Homo sapiens: one gene and its partners. The protein of the gene in region 1 purifies or fractionates together with the protein of each later gene. This does not show direct contact. Each region holds a gene or a part of one and is shown in the gene's direction. Other genes may lie near its edges.

What was found.
Region 2: the proteins of DHX33 (region 1) and NPHP4 purify together in Homo sapiens (co-immunoprecipitation; one large-scale study listed by IntAct). This does not show direct contact.
Region 3: the proteins of DHX33 (region 1) and RUFY3 purify together in Homo sapiens (affinity purification with mass spectrometry; one large-scale study listed by BioGRID and IntAct). This does not show direct contact.

What each region holds. Positions count from the first base shown.
Region 1 is NC_000017.11:5,455,347-5,458,998, reverse strand, and holds part of DHX33 (ATP-dependent RNA helicase DHX33), read left to right. Parts: intron 1-2,816; coding exon 2,817-3,002; intron 3,003-3,652. UniProt on the Homo sapiens protein: Implicated in nucleolar organization, ribosome biogenesis, protein synthesis and cytoplasmic dsRNA sensing. Stimulates RNA polymerase I transcription of the 47S precursor rRNA.
Region 2 is NC_000001.11:5,905,295-5,908,946, reverse strand, and holds part of NPHP4 (nephrocystin-4), read left to right. Parts: intron 1-1,724; coding exon 1,725-1,832; intron 1,833-3,163; coding exon 3,164-3,315; intron 3,316-3,463; coding exon 3,464-3,652. UniProt on the Homo sapiens protein: Involved in the organization of apical junctions; the function is proposed to implicate a NPHP1-4-8 module. Does not seem to be strictly required for ciliogenesis. Required for building functional cilia.
Region 3 is NC_000004.12:70,805,441-70,809,092, forward strand, and holds the end of RUFY3 (protein RUFY3), read left to right. Parts: intron 1-1,075; coding exon 1,076-1,219; 3' UTR 1,220-3,179; downstream 3,180-3,652. UniProt on the Homo sapiens protein: ARL8 effector that promotes the coupling of endolysosomes to dynein-dynactin for retrograde transport along microtubules. Acts by binding both GTP-bound ARL8 and dynein-dynactin.

The sequences.
Region 1 (3,652 bases):
CTCAAACTCCTGACCTCAAGTGATTTTCCCGACTCAGCCTCCCAAAGCACTGGGATTGCAGATGTGAGAAACCGTGCCCAGTCAATTTTTATTTTAAAATAAGTGATGCATATGGGATTTAAAGTTTTAAAAAGTCAAGTAGTTTATAGTAAAAGGTTTATAATAAAAGAATAGCAGTTGTTTTTACTTCAACATCCCAGATTTCTGCTGTTTAGGGCACCTACTTTCAATCTCTACATATTGCTTTCATGTTTCTAAACTACCTTGCTTTGACCACTATTTTTTGAGTTATGGGTATCAGGCATCATATGCTAATTTCTTACCATGGTGACAAAAGTTTAGAATGCCCCTCCCCAACCCCCTTTATCTCCAACCTCTTGACAGTTCTATCATGTTTTTGTTTAGGTTTTTGTTTTTGAGGCAGGATCTTGCTGTGTTGCCCAGGCTGGTCGTGAACTCCCGGGCTCAATCAGTCCTCCCACCTCAGCATTGGGAGTAGCTAGGACTACATGCTTGCACACCTGTGTCTGGCCTATTATGATGTTTTCTGAGTCCAGTATCAATACTAAGAATATTATGACCACACATTGCTAGTAGCACACCATCATCCCTGTACCTTGTTTCTTGAACAACACAGTTGTGCAAGCTTTCTGGGTAGCTCTGGCTCATTTTCTCCCAAATATTCCAACATCTCATATGCCAGTCGTGTATAGTTCTGTGTTCAAGCACAGTCTGTCTTTTCAGAGTCCTTTATGCTGCTGTTCCAGTTGGGGCAGGTGGCTCTCCTGGGCCTTTGTGCAGCTGTCATCTTGACTCTTCACTTTGTCACCATTTTCCCGTGGTGAGACCCATGGCTTCCCAGTCTCCTGGCCGTCCTGGGTAGGAGAGGGAACTGAAGGCTTTAACTACTCTATACTCAGACTTTGAACCAATCCCTGAGTTTTCACTCTCCCACAACATAATTTGTAGTTTCCTCCCTCTAGCCAAGTCATCCAGCCCCTTTCCCCTCTCTTCCAAAATGAGTTGAGACTCCTCATCTCTCATTGCCTTTTCTTTCTAAGACAGTGGCCTTTACTGTCGTTTTCATAGTGTTTGGGGAAGAAGTCTGCCTTGTTCAGCTGCAGAAAGCAAACGAGAATTTTTCATGAATGATGGCTGCTGGTGCATTAGGTTACCACTGGCTTTGATGAATTCTCCCACTCATGAGGTTTTGACTGTTTTAGATTTTATCCTGTCTGTGTATCCCTCTGCACATTTGTTCTGTTAATACTGGGCTGAAAAAAAATACATATTAAAAAATACGTATTTTTACATATATACATAAATATACATATAATTATTAAAATTTTTTTCTATTTATTTTGCCATTAGGCACTTTTTTTTTTTTTTTTTGAGATGGAGTCTCACTGTGTCGCCCAGGCTGGAGTGCAGTGACACGAGCTCGGCTCACTGCAACCTCTACCTCCCAGGTCCAAGTGATTCTTGTGCCTCAGCCTCCTGAGTATCTGGGATCACACCTAGCTAACTTTTGTATTTTTAATAGAGATGGGATTTCACTGTGTTGGACAGGCTGGTCTCAAACTGCTGACCTCAACCCATTTGCCTGCCTCAGCCTCCCAAAGTGCTGGGGTTACAGGCATGAGCCACTGCGCCCAGTCCATCAAGCACTTCATTTTATTTATTTATTTTTTGAGATGGAGTCTTGCTCTGTCGCCCAGGTTGGAGTGCAGTGATGCAATCTCGGCTCACTGCAACCTCCGCCTCCCATGTTCAAGTGATTCTCCTGCCTCAGCCTCCTGAGTAGCTGGGATTACAGGCGTGCGCCACCACGCCTGGCTAATTTTTTGTATTTTTAGTAGAGACAGGGTTTCACCATGTTGGTCAAGCTGGTCTCGAACTCCTGACCTCAGGTGATCTGGCCGCCTCGGCCTCCCAAAGTGTTAAGCACTTTACATCAAACAAATTAATGTATCTGATCAGAAATCAAAGAAAAATCAGGGCATTAGGTATGTCATTCACACTTGGGTGTTGTTCCATTTGAAAGTGAGGAACCCCATTAACCTCAGTATCTCAAGCAGTTGTCCGAGTATAGTGTGTGTTTTGGGGCGTGTGAAAGCGCTTTCGACGGCGTCATTCATTAAAGGCTCCTTCTCCAGCATGGCTGCGCCTGTTCATTTCCATAGATTAGGATTTCCCCAAGTTTCCTTCTGTTTTGTCAACTTCATTTTTCAAGATGCTTATAAAAGAAAGGAAGCTTCATGCAGATTTTATTTGCTTGCCTGATTATGCTTTTCATGGTATTGTTCTTGTTAGAAAAATCAATCTGATGATTTCCCTTCAAAATTTCATCACTTGGCCTATAAACATAGCTGGCTAACTCCTATATATTACAGTTTTGTTTTTTGTGTTTTTGAGTCAGGTTCTCGTTCTGTCGCCCAGGCTGGAGTGGAGTGGCAAGCAGCTGGAACTATAGGCATGTGTCACCACCCCTGACCAATTTAAAAAAAAGTGTTTTGTAGAGATGGGATCTTGCTGCGTTGCCCAGGCTGGTCACAAACTCCTGGCTGCAAACGATCCTCCCGCCTCAGCCTCCCAAAGTGCTGGGTTTACAGGCGTGAGCCATCACACCCAGCCTGTTACCATTTACACACTGCTGGTAAGGGTTCTCTCCAAGCTAGACATCAACTTTTAGGCTCATTTACATTTCTATAGTTAAGAGAAATAACTCTGGGAAACATCATCAATCACCATTGTCTTTTTCTGTGCAAGCTGCAATTCTATCAATGCCTAGTAAACCCACTCTACTTTTTTTACAGGAAGCCCCTTCTTCACAGGACATCCTGGTGTTCCTCACTGGGCAGGAGGAGATCGAAGCCATGAGCAAGACGTGCCGAGACATTGCAAAGCACCTCCCAGACGGCTGCCCTGCGATGCTGGTCCTTCCTCTGTACGCCTCCCTGCCCTATGCACAGCAGCTCCGAGTCTTCCAAGGGGCCCCAAAGGTGAGTGCACCACCTCTTCTGTCCAGCCCTATTCTGGGCACCCAGACGGATCCACCAGCGAGGTCTGTACCTGTTACCAGGCTCCAGATAAGGTGTATGGGATGGGATACCCAGGTGCCAGATCAGCGCACTGAGGAGGTGCAGGAATAAAATGCGCGGTGACACACGCAGCGCTCCTGTGACAGGAGCAGGGAGACAGTTGTTGGGATGAGGGAGAGTATAAACCAAAGCTGCAAGGTAAACGAGTGACTTCTAAGGACCAGCATAAATTGCATTTGTCCATAGTGCCATTTCTTGTGTGCCTTTGCCGTGCCAGGCACTGTGCTAGCATTTATATCCACTGTCTGTCATCCTCGTGGGAACCGGCAAGGCAGGTTATGATCCCATGGGGATCCTGAGGCCCCAAGAAGGGAAGTAACAATTGCTCAAGGGGGCGCATAGTAAGTCACTGGCAGGGCCACGATTCCAACCCACATCTACTTGCTTCTGATTCCTGTGCTTGTTCCACTGCATCTCATTGCCTCAAATTGACCTTTAAGACTGCAGCGTCCCCTTCCCCTGCCCGGTTTAATGACCAACCATTAATATTAATGACTGCCATTAATAATGGAGTCATCTTCTGTTGGTCAAGAGTGAATTGTGGAAGTTAA
Region 2 (3,652 bases), on another chromosome or scaffold:
GGGGCTGCTGCTTGCAACCCCTATGCTGCTGTATGGGGCGTCTCCACATCTCCCTGGCAGCTGCATCTCATGGTGGCAACTCTCAGGACTGGACGGCCTTTGCTTTTTCTGAGAGACATCGAGGTGTGGTCCTCACCCTCTTTGCTCTCCCAGACTAACTCCACCAGTAGCGGTGCCTGGCAGCTATTGGTGTCCCCTGGCCCTGTCGGCCAAGCAGCCGATGCTGGTGGAGACAGTGGCACTGCTGAGAACCACAAGCTGCTGGCAGTTGCACGTCCGACCGCACAGATCCCCGTGGCGCTGGAACTTCCTGAGTGGGAGGAGAGGCGCCTTCCCGCTGGGCCGTTGCCCGCCAGCGGTCTGAGCTGAGCTCCTGCTTGGCTGCCGTTCTGGAGTCCCGAGACACCCGTGGCGCTCACCTGTGGCTCCAAGGCTGGCCTTAGCTATGTGATTTGCAGTGAGGTCAGATGTGGCTTGTTCCTGCTGATGACTTTGTCTGCCAGCATCATCCTGGAAATTGACTTTCTAGAAAAGTTGACTAATTCAGTATCCATGGCTGTCTCCAAGGAAGCAGCTTTAGTGTGTCATCTGCAGTGGGAAACTGGATCAGGAGTGAAGAATACTGGATTCACCTAAAGGCGCAAGTCTGTGGACGGCCTCCCAGGCTTCCCTGCTGGCCCAACCTGGCATTTTCCCTGGAGCAGTTTCCACGTGACCCCGAGTGGTCACGATACCGTATAGGGTCTGAGGGAAGCTGGGTAGGCCCCAAAGATCTCCTCTGCTCCCTGAAGATGCTGCCAGGGTCCCCTGGGGATGCTTCATGCACCCCGCCCCCCATTCATTCCTCAGTGCCTCTTCATACATTGGGGCCTCTCTGCCAGCACCTGGTGTGGGCCAGCCATCATTGCTGACAGTGAATGTCTCAGGTGCTGGCTGTGTGTACTGGAGTTAGAGTCCGGGTTTGAGATCTGTGTCTTCAGTAGTGCGTGGGCCCCCAGCCCTCCGCATCAGTGTTTTAAGCCGCACTCATTTCCAAATATCTGCAGTATTTATAGAAGGCTCACCGTGTGCCAGGTACTATGCCAAACCCTAGCCAGGATTGTCATTTAATTCTCCTAACAGTCCTGCAGTTTAGGTACTATTATTACCCCCATTTTACAGGTGAGGAGACTGAGGCAAAAAGAGGTTAGCTGACTTGCCTGAGGCTACACAGTAATGCCACATTGGTGCGGGCACTCCACGGTAATGCCACGTTGGCACGGGCACTCTATCCACAGCTGTCTCCAGAGCCCGCGCTGGCCATCAAGATGGTCATTGCCTTAACAGGGAGGTTTGTTCGATAGGAACGCAGGCGGCTAGAACTGGCAGGGCCTTGGAGGTGCTCAGTCCAGTGCTGGCAAGGGACAGAGAGGCAGAGGCCAGGCCGCCCCTGTAGCTTGAGATGCTTTCTCCTTTCTTGCTTGTTTTCCTTGTTAATAATATTCTTATTCAGATATTATGATCTGGGGGAGATCATGGAATCACCTCTCTGTCATTAAATAAAGGAACTTGAGAAGCGGTCCCAGGTTCCAGAGCTGCCCTGGCCAGGAGGCTGCAGGCATCACTCCCTTCCGTGGCTGGATCCAGGGCTACCCCGTTCCCCGGTGTGGCCAGTGCATGTTGGGAGCTTTGTGGACGGACTGGCAAGCTTCTGAGCCCCTCACCTGTGCTCTCTTTCCTTCCAGTTGTCAATTTCCCAGCTGGCGGCCTCCCCGCGGTCCCCGACTCAGCACTGCTTGGCCAGGCCTACTTCACAGCTACCCCATGGCTCTCAGGCCTCCCCGGCCCAGGCAGTAAGTGCCGCCCACCTGCCGCCTTGCCTTCCACCAAGGAATGGCTCCACAGCTCCTCATTTTGGGTTTTTGCACTGTGCCTGTCCTTAGTTAGGTGGCAGAGACCTTGGCGGGTTACCTGGGATGTGGGTGGGAGTGGGGCATTGCTTACTCTGAGGCCTCAGACAGTTGTCACCATTCTGTCTTGGAGACCAAAGAAGAATGTGGCCCATGAGTTCTTCATACCACAGCGCTTGACTCAGATTGTGCTCTACCCATGAAAACAAAGTTAAGCTACCCCTAGGTCTCTACGTGAAAGTAAAAGGAAGGTGTGGCTATATCTATAGACAGGCTGAGACAGGCACCCAGCACCCCAGGACCCTCCTTGCTATCAGCAGCTAAAGGAGGTGAGTGGAGCCCGCCATCCTGGCTTCAGGGTGTGCTCCTGGCTAAGACTGGCATTGCCACTGGCCTTGGGGAATTCCTATGGAGTTTGGTTTCCAAAGTCGGCTGGTTCACCTGCAAACTGCATCTTTGGTCTTAACTGGAATTATGTTGAGGAAAAATAGTTTCTTTTAATTCCTTGTTTGAAAACACTCCTAGCACCATGAGTCTCTGCTGCTTTATCTAAAGCATCTCTGGGGCTCATGTGTTTGTGAAGAGCTTGCCTAGCTTTTTATTATTGGCGCATGAGACATGGTGTGAGGGTGACCTGGTTTCCTCTGGGCTGAAACAGAAAGCTTGGGAATGAAGCTTGAGAGAGCACATTCCCAACTCCCAAGCCAGCTCCTCTCTGAGAGGCCTGCCTCGGCCTTGGAGGGGAGTGGAGGTGGAATACGAGTGAATGACAAGAAGTTTCAGGGGCTGTGGGGACAAGAGACTGTCCAAACACGCCAGCCAGGGGCTCGGTGCCACAGTTTATCTTGGAGTATTGAGGAAGCTTCATCTTTCTGTTCTATAAACATGCTTTGATATGAATTTACCATCTCAGGTGTCAGGTATCTCCCACGGTCCTGACCTGCTCATAAAATTAGGATTCCCTCCTCACCGCTTCTCAACTCACACATTGGATTGCCACGTGAAATATAGGATGCCCAGTTAAATTTGAACCTCAGGTACACAACAAATAATTTTTTAGTGTAAGTATATCCCAAATATCGTAGGGACCATACTTATACTAAAATCATTTGTTGTTTACCTGAAATTCAAGTGTAATTGAACCTTTTGTATTTGCTAGAGCTGGCAACCCTCCAGAGGCAATTAATCGATGAATCCCCTTAGATCTGAGCACCGTTGGTTGTTACGGGTTGGGGTCCTTGGTGGCCTCACTTGGAAGCCCTCGTTTTGTTCAGCAGGAGTTCCCGTTGGAGGCCGGTATCTCCCACCTGGAAGCCGACCTGAGCCAGACCTCCCTGGTCCTGGAAACATCCATTGCCGAACAGTTACAGGAGCTGCCGTTCACGCCTTTGCATGCCCCTATTGTTGTGGGAACCCAGACCAGGAGGTGAGGTGTGGGTCTGGGTGGGATGGAACCAGTCACGTGCTGTGCCGTCAGACTGTTGGACCTTGTGAACCCCAGGGTTTCCACAGGGAGGTGCATCAATGGGTCCCCCCTTTCCCGGGAGGCTACCTGAGGAGTCTCTGTGTCTCAGCTCTGCAGGGCAGCCCTCGAGAGCCTCCATGGTGCTCCTGCAGTCCTCCGGCTTTCCCGAGATTCTGGATGCCAATAAACAGCCAGCCGAGGCTGTCAGCGCTACAGAACCTGTGACGTTTAACCCTCAGAAGGAAGAATCAGATTGTCTACAAAGCAACGAGATGGTGCTACAGTTTCTTGCCTTTAG
Region 3 (3,652 bases), on another chromosome or scaffold:
CTCAAGAAAAGTTATGTACAAATGAGTGTATGAAACACATGCTTGGAAGAGATACAGGAAACAGGCTCAAATTCTGGATCACAACCTGCATAGCACCATCTGTGATCATGCAAAATTTTAATAAATTATAATATGACCTAGTCTTAAATTCACAGAATCAGATAACAAATGAACTGCCCTTATAGAACTGGAAGTTACAATTATAGAAATATGTTACAAAGTAGAACAAACTGTTAATTCTGGCTTTCCTCTTCTAAGCCATGCAATATTAGCTTCTGTATGTCAGACAAAAATTCTTCTTAGGCTTTCAGATAAAAGCAACCCCCTACTCCTCTCAACCTCAGGAAGATGAATTATTTGGGATGAAGGTAGCACTTCATGGGAGAAATTATTCTTTACAGCTTTTTATATAGGACCCTTGGAGCTTTGTGTATACCACCCTATCACAGCCTTACTGCTGACATTGCTATAGTGACTTCTTGCTCTCTGTGCTTGACCATTAAAGATGCAAAACATTTAGGAAAACAAAATAATTTCCCTATGAACAAGATGCAGGAAGCTGTGCTCCTGCTGCATTGATAACCCAGTGGATGTGCTTACAGAGCACCAGAGACCACAGGAAAGCATAAAGCACATCAGTGTATTTATTAGGAATTATACTTTCAGTTCATACTCTGGACATTTTTAAATCTTAGCCTGTTCACTCAATCCATTGCTCTTTCACTGCCTTATTTGGAGTATGCGCAGGTACTTGCAAACTAATTTTAAAACTAACCTACCTCAAAGTGAGTATGGGGAACAGATGTGTGAAGGATATTCTAAAGATAAGTGACTTGTATGTTACCTGTTTTTATTTTTAACTCTATGGCACTGCTTCTTTTCATTTAAATCTAAAAACTAGACGGTGAACTTTTTTGTAGATTGGGCCTGTGTTCAGATACTACCTGGCACATAGTAAACATTCAGTCATTGTTTGATTAGGCATTGAGCATTTGCCATATTTGGCTTTTTATATCCCATGAATCCTTATGCCTTGCTCATCTTCTATTCCCCGCCTAACCTCCTCTTCTCATAGAATGTGTGTAAGAACTGCAGCGGAACCTTCTGTGATGCCTGTTCAACAAATGAACTGCCTCTTCCTTCAAGTATCAAGCTTGAGCGAGTTTGCAATCCCTGTCACAAGCATCTGATGAAGCAATATTCTACCAGCCCATCATAAGACTGGAGGCCAAGACCTGGACCAAAACGTTTATGCAGGCTCCTCTGTACCTGTGTTTTAGCTGTCAGGATCTCATAGAGCCCAGTTCTTAGAGTCAACTAAAGAGTTGATAGGAATTTACTAGGTCCAGGGAGAAAAGGCAGTGGTTGGGGTTACTGGAAATTTTGCTCATTTTCTCTAATGACTGTATGAATAAAAGTGAACTTACTTGAGCCTTTCTCTTCTAAATCTAAACAACCTGATATTGAAGGTTTGCTTTATAGCATATCTTTGGAAAGGCAACTCATTTTTATGATTAGTGATACTGGGGTGGATTTAATAGGAGAGAGAATCCAGGCAGATAAGAATAAAAAGGAAAATGATCATCTCCTTCTATAGCATTTGCAGATTCAAGGGGGAGAGGTAGATGCTGAGATCAAAATGACAGTTGTTACTTATTTTTCCAGGTGCTGTTAGTATAAACATTGTTTCCTCTTCACCCCTGCTAACTACCTCTTTAAAGTATTTCTACCAAACTGTGAACCCAATCTCAGGGAAAAGAAATTAAAAAGTAATATAAATTCTGCATATATTAAAAACAATATTGTAATATGTTATAATTTCAGGACCAGAATTTTCTGGTCTTTACCTACAAGGGTTTTCATTATCAAAAAAAAGAACATTTGTTTTTCTACTTTATGACTTCAAAGTAAATAACTGCCCTTTTCAGAATCTCCTTCCACAAAACAAGCCAACTCTTCCCCATTCCCTCCATCTTCCTTTCCAAGTCATAATGGAAATTGTAAGGAGTTTTAAAAATAGGGTTTGGCTTTTGCAAATAGAAGATATTGATTAAAGCAAAGTCAAATATAGAGTAAAATAAGTTTAATTTGTTTTCTTAAGACAGGGTCTTGCTCTGTTGCACAAGCTGGAGGGCAGTAGTGCAATCACAGCTCACTGAATCCCTGTTCTCCCGGGCCTCAAGCAATCTTCCCACCTTAGCCTCCCAAGTAGCTGGGACTGGCTTTTTTTTTTTTTTTTTGGCCGGGGAGGGGGTCTCATTGGTTGCTCAGCCTGGTCTCAAACTCCTGGGCTTAAGCAGTCCTCCCACCTTGACTTCCACAGTGCCGAGATTACAGGCATGAGCCACCACACCTGGCCAAGTTTAATTTGTTCATGGCTGAGAACAGTTAGCTCGGAATACTTACATTGTTTTTTGAATAAGGAATTCCTTATTCTGAGTGAGTCACGAATGAGAGCTGATAGATGCTTTCTTGAAAAGGGCAATACAGTCATCCCTTGGTATCCATGGGGGATTGGTTCCAGGAACCCAACTTGATATCAGAATCCATGGGTGCTCAAGTCCCATTATAGAGAATGGGTTATATGGTATTTGCATATAACCTACATACATCCTCCTGTGTACTTTAAATCATCTGAAGATGATTACTTATACCTAATAAAATACCTACACATCACTTCATTTGCATGGATTCAACATAGTGCTTGGTGTTCAGTAAATTCAAGTTTTGCTTTTTTGGAACTTTGTGGAATTTTTCTTTTTCTGAATATTTTTGATTGGCAGTTGGTTGAAGCCATGGATGCAGAACCCATGGATATGGAGGGCTGACTGTACTTACTTACATATCTATCTATCTTTGAGTAACAAACTCTTTGGGGGAAAAGAGGGAAGTGTATTGAGCAAGAGAAGGCAAAAAACATTACATAATATTTTGATTCTGTTACGTGTGTCTATAGATTGTTTCATTCTAATCAAGACCTAAGAAGGTATGATTCTGTGACTGATTTAGAATTCTGGGGTGGAAATATCCTGGAACCATGTTTTTTAATAAATTCTGTCTCTTGGAAAGAGTTAACAACAGCCTGGGAAAGAGTTGTTATTCCAAAAGTCAGCCTGTTACTTGGTGAAGCTGAAGTTTAAGAGTTCTGGGGAAAAATAAAATCTAGTAATTCCAGCCTAGTTTGTTGATTGATGATTGTCTTTTTTTTTACCCTAAATAACAACATTTCTTTTTTGAATCTTCACTCTCATTTTTTGGCCACCTACATGAGCTAGCACTCTTTTAGGTGCTATACATGATGTGGGGCACAAAAATGGACTACAGGAGTGTTGCCCTAAATTAGAAAGTTATTTTATAACTAATTTTAAATTAATTTGAAAAGATCTTTGTAACACAATATAAGGAGGAACAGTCACTTGATACTTTACTTAGAATTACACATAAATATTAGCCTTAAAAAAATTTAGGCTGGGCGCGGTGGCTCACATCTGTAATCCCAGCACTTTGGGAGGCCAAGGCAGGCAGATCACGTGAGGTCAGGAGTTCGAGACCAACCCGGCCAATGTGGTGAAGCCCCATCTCCACTAAAATAAATTAACTAACTAACTAAATAAATAAGTAAATGCAAAAATTAGCCAGGTGTGGTGGTGTG